Homo sapiens: one gene and its partner. The gene in region 1 interacts genetically with each later gene. Each region holds a gene or a part of one and is shown on either strand. Other genes may lie near its edges. The genes, in order: RRAS and ASPM.

Region 1 (3,919 bases):
TGAAGCTGGGAGGACCTCCCTCAGGAATGGGGAGGAGGTTTCCTGGGCTGGGGTGGAATTTCAGGAAAGGGGGTGATGTGGAGGCTAGGGGTCTGAAGGCTGCATCTGTCGGTTAGAGGGGTGCTTGGTGAGGGGCTTGTCCTGGAGGGAGGCTGTAAGGATCAAGCCCTGGGAGGGATTGTGGCTCTGGGGGTAGTTAGGGGCGTGACCTCAGAGCACAGCGTGAGAAGCTCAGGGCTGAGAACTGGGAGCCAGCCCGGAGGTGGCTCAGGGGTTTTGGGAGGTTATAGTATATACAGTCTTAGAAACATTGAGTTCATTTATGGGGTCAGAGAAACTCCCAAGGAATAGATCTTTCTGGGGGTGCCAAGAATCTGGGGGCTTCTTCCATGGAGATGATTTGAGAGCTATTCAGGGTTTCTGAGAGGGGCTCAGGGAGTTGCAGCGGAGAAAGCATGGGATGGAGGAGGGGCTGGTTTTCCTTGGGGGTGGGGTGGGAGAGTGGAGGTTTGGGCCTCCGGGAATGGGGGATTGTCAGGACTTGGGGTCTTGGAGATTTCTGGAATGGCCAAGGGGCAGGATGTCTTTTTAAATCTCGGGTCGGAGAGCAGGACTCTCTTAGGACTGGGTAGTCCCAGAAGAGTCTCAGGGCCAGGGTCTGGGTAGAATTTCTAGATTCTGGGGGCAGTCATGGAAGGGGCTAAGAATCAAACGTGGGGCCGGGCACGGTGGCTCATGCCTGTAATCCCAGCACTTTGGGAGTCCAAGGCAGGCCGATCACGAGGTCAGGAGTTCGAGACCAGTCCAATATGGTGAAACCCCGTCTCTACTAAAAAATACAAAAATTAGCCAGGCATGGTGGCACTCGCCTGTAGTCTCAGCTACTTGGGAGGCTGAGGCAGGAGAATTGCTTGAATCCAGGAGGCAGAGGTTGCAGTGAGCCAACATCGCACCACTGCACTCCACCGCACTCCAGCCTGGGTGACAGAGTGAGTGAGACTCTGTCTCAAAAAAAAAAAAAAAGAAAAAAAAGAATCGAACGTGGTGGAATCTCAAAGGTGCTGGGCACTGGCATTCTCCCAGGAAGGCTCTCAATGGCTTAGAGGGGAAGTTGGGGACTGGGATTTGGGGGAGATAGGGCTCAGGGTGGTGGAAGGTGGCACCAAGGGCGTGGTGGGGGTCCTGGGAGTGCTTAGGGTCCGAATGGGGTGAGTATTTTGTATTTAGCATGCTCCCAGGAGGTGCTCAAAGCCAGGTCAGCAGGTAAGCGGGGTCTTAGGCACTGGGAGAGGGAATAGTGGGTCTCGGGATGCGAGTGCAGAAGGAAGGGTCCCCCGTGCAGGGGATGGAGGCTCTCCAAGAGTTTAGGTTACAATCTGTGGGGATCTTTTAAGATTAGAGGGCCTTATAGGAGGGTCTCAGTGATGGGTCAAGGGGGAAAAGGGGTCTCGGGGATCCCCCCAAGGGCTCAGTTCTGGGTCCCGGGGGACACCCTCCCGGGTGAGGGCCCACTACCTGGATGAACTGGATGGTCAGCGCGCTCTTGCCCACGCCGCCGCCGCCCACGACCACCAGCTTGTGTGTCTCGCTGGGCGGGGGGTCCCCGGGCCCAGGTCCCCCGCCCCGGGGCCGCCCCCGCCCTGTCCCGGACGCCGCCCCGCTGCTCATGTCGCCACCGCTGCTGCTGCCTTCGCTACCGCCTGCGGGGGAGCCGGGCGGGACCCGGGGGGGCGGGCTACGCTAATGAGGCTACTGCATAATCATGAGCTCTGGCAAGGAGGGCTCGCGTCTCCGGACACTTAAGGAGGGGGACGGGCCAAAGAAAGGGAGGAGCTATGTTAATAAGGGAAAGGGAACGGCGTTCGCTGCGAAGGGGAATTCCGAATGAGGCGGGGCTATGCTAATGAGAGACCTGTGCTTTGCCCTGAGCGGCGCCACGCGCTCTCAGCGGGAGGGCGGTCTGTGGGCGTGGCTATGCTAATAAGAATTTATTCTTTCAGCAGACGGGGCGGAAAGTTCCTCAGGGGAGGGGCTATGCAAATAAGGACCCCTGTGACACTGCTGCTTGGGGCATCGTCTCCGAGGCCTTAGTATGGTAGGCGGAGCTCGTCGACTCGCGCGCGCGGCCGTATATAGGGCGCTCCGAGGAAGCAGCAGGTTTTGAGGAGTAGCTCCACCTCCCTCCTGGGATCCTAGCCAAGCTTTCGACCCCGGCGTCTGGGTTAGAAGCTAGAGTCTCCGCCCGCTAAGGGACCCAGGCTTCCGGTTCCCGCTGTCCCAGCCAAGCGGAAGACAGACTGGGAGGAGAGTGGGGCCCTAGAGGGGGACAGCAGGGTAACGGGGCAGGGAGGGGCCGTGAGATCACTGCATTCCTAATCCATGAGCCAGCTCGCCCAAGTAGGGATGCCTGGGTCATGAAGAGCCTGGGGCCAGGATTTCTGGGTCTTGAAGGAGAAGGAAGCAGAGGGCCCAGACTCCTGGGTCCTTAGGAGAAAATGGGGCTGGAGATGTGGACTCCTGGGTCCTGGGGAGGAGGGTGTCAGGGAGGAAGGTAGACAGGTTCCTTCGTACTAGGTTCGGTAAAGGAGGGAGCCGGGGGCCTGGACTCTTAGGTCCAGGAATTGGAGAGGCTGGGGACCCAGGATTCTGGATCCGAGCGAGGGCACTGGCTTGGGGGGACCCGAATTCGTATGTGAGAGCTTGAGACCAGGACTAGTCTGGGAGACCGACTCTTGGATCCGAGGAAGGAAGAATCAGACTCCTGAGTCGGAGGGAGGAGGGAAATAGGAGTCTGGACACTGCTCTGAGTGAGAGGATTCGGAATTCAGACTTCTCTGTACTGAACGAGGCGGCTATGGGGTCGGGCTTCTAGGTTCTAAGTTTATTTTTATTTGTTTATTTTTGAGACGGAGTTTCCGTCTTGTAGCCCATGCTGGAGTGCAATGGCGCGATCTTGGCCCACTGCAACCTCCGCTTCCCGGGTTCAAGCGATTCTCCTACCTCAGCCTCCCGAGTAGCTGGGATTACAGGCGTTAGCCACCACGCCAGGCTAATTTTTGTATTTTTAGTAGAGACTGGGTTTCACCATGTTGGTCAGGCTGGTCTTGAACTCCTGATATCAGATGATCCGCCTGCTTCGGCCTCCCAAAGTGCTGGGATTACAGACGTGAGCCACCGCGCCTGGCCTATTTTTATTTTTTTAGAGGCGGGGTCTCCCTATATTGCCTAGGCTGGCTTCTAACTTCTAGGCTCAAGCCATCCTTCCGCCTCAGTCTCCCGAGTGGGACTACGGTGTGCGCCACTGCATCCCGTCTGGTTCTAAATTTAGGGGGGCCTAGAGGATCTGGATTCTGAGAGCCCCAGAATGTGGGCAGCACAACATCCAGCAAGTCGTGCTCACTCCGCCGGACTACAATTCCCTTGCGTCTGTTCTGCCTGGCGCCTCTTACGTCACCTCCTGTTCCGCCACCCTTTCCGCGCGCGCGCAGGGCACTGTGGGGCGTCATCGCGGGCTACCGCGGCCCCGCCCACTTCACCTCTCACCCCATTAGCTGTCCCCGCGCGACAGAGGCGGTGCGCGGACTACGCCTCCCGGCGTGCATCGCGCGGACCCCGCCCCATGTGTCCCATTGGCTTCTGGGAAACCGAGTGCGGTTGCCTTCCCGCCGGCCTTCACGTCGCCGTGCTCGGTACTTGAAATCCCGGCAAGCTCGGCGGCGCTTTAGCTCCGCCTCTCTCCTCCTTTGCTCACGAACCCCGCCCCAGCCCGCCCCGCCCCGCGCCGGGGCCGGAGCCGCAGCCCGAGCGGCGGGGTAAGATGGCGGCGGCAGTCCGGGCCGCGGGGCTCGGGCCTATTGGGGTGGGCGGGGCGGAGTTGGGTCGCTAGTTGTCCCGGGGTCCTCCCCACAAGCCACGGGTC
Region 2 (3,919 bases), on another chromosome or scaffold:
ATAGGTCAGTGATTTGAAAGTTAAAGTTTGGGTTCTTCACAATCATATTCATTTAGCAAACACTTAATAACCACTGTACTCCACGCACTAATGCTATGAATTCAGTGGTTTATCAAACCAACATCCAGAAGTCACAGACCATAAACCACAATTTATTTTGTGTTTACAGAGGCTAAAGTCTAGATTCAACCAAAACTTATTGTGTCTGTATATTCCAGACTCTCTACGAGGTGCTGAGAATATGCAGAATTGAAAAATATGGTCTCAGCCCTGAAGTAGTTCTCAGTCTGGTAAAAAAAGAAGTTTAAAAATGGTAGAAGAGCCTTCCCAGATGGGAATCTACTTGAGTTAACTTATGAAATTAAAATTAGGCATGAGGAATGTGGCCTGTTGCCAGAACTGCAATAAGGATGAAGCAAAGAATACACGTAGGAAATGACATACAAGAGGCTAGAAGAGGTAGGGAGGAGTTCAATAATATTCAAAATAATAGTGGCAGCTAATACTTAAATACTTTGTGCCAGGCACTATCATAATCTTTTTCTCACACAGTTATGAGAACAAATTTATGAGAAGTGTACTATTATTACCACAATGTATATAATTAGGATACTGAGGCTTTGAGCAATTAAGCCACATGGTCTAAGGTCACATAAGCTAGTAAGTAGCAAAGATTTGAACAAAGGCAGTATAGTTACAGAACCTCCACTATTAATCACTTTGAAGCACCTTCTATGCTAGTGAAGAATTTTAATCAAGGAAGTAAAAACCCTCATTTATATTTAAGAAAACAGTATGGACAATGGAATGAACAGGGTCAAGATTAGAAACAGAAAATTACAAAGCAGTTATTACAATGACCCAAGGTGGATATGGTGAGACAAATTAAAACAGAGTCAATGGAGACAAATCAGAGGAGAGTTATTTTAATAGTGGAAGAAACAACCCTTAATACCAACTTATTAGAAAAGTGATAGAGAATAACAGGCTGATTCCCAAATATGTAACCAAGATGGTTGATATAATGCCAGGTGGCTATCAAAGAAAATGCAATACAAATTGCAGTAGCAAATAACCTATTGGAATAGCAGTTCACTCTTTCAAAAACAGGTTTCACAACAAAATATACTGCTACTAAATATAAGCAAAGAGACAATAAGAGCAGGGGTCAGCAAACTACATCCATTCCCCATGCAAAACCCTCCCTACTGTTTTTGTATGTTCCAAGAGCTAAATATAGCTTTTACATTTGTAAAGAGTTAAAAAAAAAATGAAAATAATAATATTTCATAAAACACAAAACTTACATAAAATTCAAATTTCGGTGTTTATGAATAAAATTTTACTGAAACACAGCCATACTCCTTGATTTGCACATTGTCTATGGCTGTTTTCCCACAAGTGCAGCAGAGTTGAGTAATTGCAGTGCAAATCTATATGGCCTGCAAAGCCTAAAATGTTTACTATCTGGACCAGTAGAGGAACAGTTTGCTTACCCTTGTTTTAAAGTAATCTCAAACCTATATCAATTGTGAAAATAAGGAACATGACTAAATTGCAACATAATACTTATTAGATTGTAAGGTTCTATGAATTGAACATTTAAAAAGTAAATTTCTAAGGAGAAATTCCTCATTCTTAAACCTTACAGAAATTAGTCCCTCTCCCTGCAACCATTTTCTTCTTTAGGAAGTCTTTCTTGGAACCATCTCATACTTCCTTGCAATTTACACACAAACCCTCTGCTTCTGTGCTTCCTTAATTTCCTAAGCATAGCATAATCACAGGACTGAACGCAACTTGAGGACAGGAATTATCCCTTTCCTCCCTGTGTACACAGTGCCTAGAAAAATGCACATCACATAGTAGGTACCTTATCAGTCAAATAAATATATCTAGAAAAATTGCCTTCTCTGTTCCCTTAGATTTGTCAAGAGGTAGAAAGAGCCACTCTTGGTGACTTACTTGCCTCTCACATAGGCTCATAAATCAGATACCCAATATGTACAATTCTGATTCTAGACTAGAGGCTCAACCAGCTGGCTGCCTCAAACAAACAGTAGGTGTGAGTGTCGACCTTTCAGTGGTTTATTTGTTCATTTATTCACTTATCCATTCATTCAATTCATCTTTTATTGTACATCTTGTAGGAGATTAAAATAGGTATGTTCCTTACTATCAAAGAATTTGTTATCTGATCAGAACATATCTACAAGAAACAGCAAAAGCAAAGAAAAATCAGACAGATACAAGATGTCACATAAGCTGTATTCACATTTGCTAAGGAAATGTACCCAGCAAATAAGTAAAAACTATAATACAAGCTTATCAATAGCAGATTTACTAAACCAAAAGGAAGTATCCCCTTTACAGGTATACTTCAGTAGATTTTATAAACAAGACTCACCAGTTTTCTTCTTCAGGTTTAATTTCTCTCTGTTGCTAATACGTTTTGAGATGGGTGTTGTCACATTTTTTGTTTTCTTAACAGCTGATGTTTTAGGCTCTGAGGGAGAAAAATGGATTCTTTTGATTTCTCGCACTTCTGTATGTTCTGTAATTGCAACTCTCACATTTGCATCTTCCATGCTTCCATCGCTCTTTCTTTTCCGAGCAACTGAAGCTGTTGTCGAAGAGGGTGTTACCTCGTTTTTATAACTCTTAGATTTACTTAATATTGGATCTATAATTGGAAGATAAGAATGAAAATCTTCTTTTTCCTTTTGATTATTTATTACTTTTTCATGTTCACCCACTGCACTGTTGAGACATCTTTTTGCTTTTGGTTTATTAATCTCAGTTTGGTTTTCTCTGGTACAGGTGGCCTTCCTTTTAGTAACAGTGGCAGAAAGTATTGGACGTCTCTTAGGTTGTTTATTGTGGCTATGACTAGAAATATCCTGAACTGCAGAAAATTTAGGATTATTTTGTTTTATAAAACTGTAGTAATTTGACTTCATTTCTACTAGTTCTTCAAAAATAGCTTTGGGAGATTTTGAACCCTGACATTCAGGAATACGTGGCGAAACTTCACTTTTTCTCCAATCTTCAGGAGACTGTGGGACTTGAGAATTTTCATTTGATAATGGTACTTTACATGTTTGCTGAGATGTACACATATATGCCATGTTATCTTTTAAAAATTGATTAGGGGATAAAATAGGATTAACTGACTCTGATTCTAGATCCTGATTTAGTCCATAATTATCTTTTATGAAAGAATCTGGACTTAAAATTTTCTGATAAATTTCATGTGCAATTGTTGATTCCAAATGCACAGGCTGTGAATTATCTTTCATAAACATATCTGATGAAAGACATGTTACTAATTCTAGTTCATTATTAGCTCCATGACTATTATTTACAAAAGAATCTGGACTTAGAAAATGTATTTGGCTTTGTGTAATGTTCAAAGTTGAAGAACAGTTGGGGGTAAGACTAAGTTTACTATTCTCTCCTCTTTGGCCATTAACATTTACGGAATTAAAGGAAGTTTCAGTTACAGCTTTCTCATTAAAAGAAACTTTTGAAACGTTGGCACTGTGTACATTTAATAGTTCCCTATTTTCTGATGCATGAAGAGATGAGTAGGTAGTAGATCGACGTACAGAGAGTGGCAAGCAAGTTGCACCATGGCATTCATTGAAAGCAGGGCTAATAGGTGATATGGGTATTTTATTTTCTTCAAGTATTAAAGAATTGTTTTCTGTTGGGGGACCGCCTTCATTCATAGCCAAGTTTTCACAAGCTTGTAGTGGGCTCCTAACTCTGTCAACTTTTTGGGAAACACTAAATGTTTTATTAACATTCTGAATATTTGAAACCCTTCTGTTGTGACTTGTAGAGGCTGAAATTTTCTTCTTTTTAATGGTATCCCAAAGACTCCTCTGCAAAAATAAGGAAAATATACCAATTAAGT

Evidence for each region.
Region 2: changes in RRAS (region 1) and ASPM together harm fitness more than expected from each alone (negative genetic interaction), as found in Homo sapiens cells (one study listed by BioGRID).

What each region holds. Positions count from the first base shown.
Region 1 is NC_000019.10:49,638,431-49,642,349, forward strand, and holds the start of RRAS (ras-related protein R-Ras), read right to left. Parts: upstream 1,714-3,919; 5' UTR 1,669-1,713; coding exon 1,516-1,668; intron 1-1,515. Other genes in the region: SCAF1 (splicing factor, arginine/serine-rich 19), read left to right, coding at 2,093-2,095. UniProt on the Homo sapiens protein: GTP-binding protein with GTPase activity, likely involved in the regulation of MAPK signaling pathway and thereby controlling multiple cellular processes. Regulates the organization of the actin cytoskeleton.
Region 2 is NC_000001.11:197,139,924-197,143,842, forward strand, and holds part of ASPM (abnormal spindle-like microcephaly-associated protein), read right to left. Parts: intron 3,888-3,919; coding exon 2,408-3,887; intron 1-2,407. UniProt on the Homo sapiens protein: Involved in mitotic spindle regulation and coordination of mitotic processes.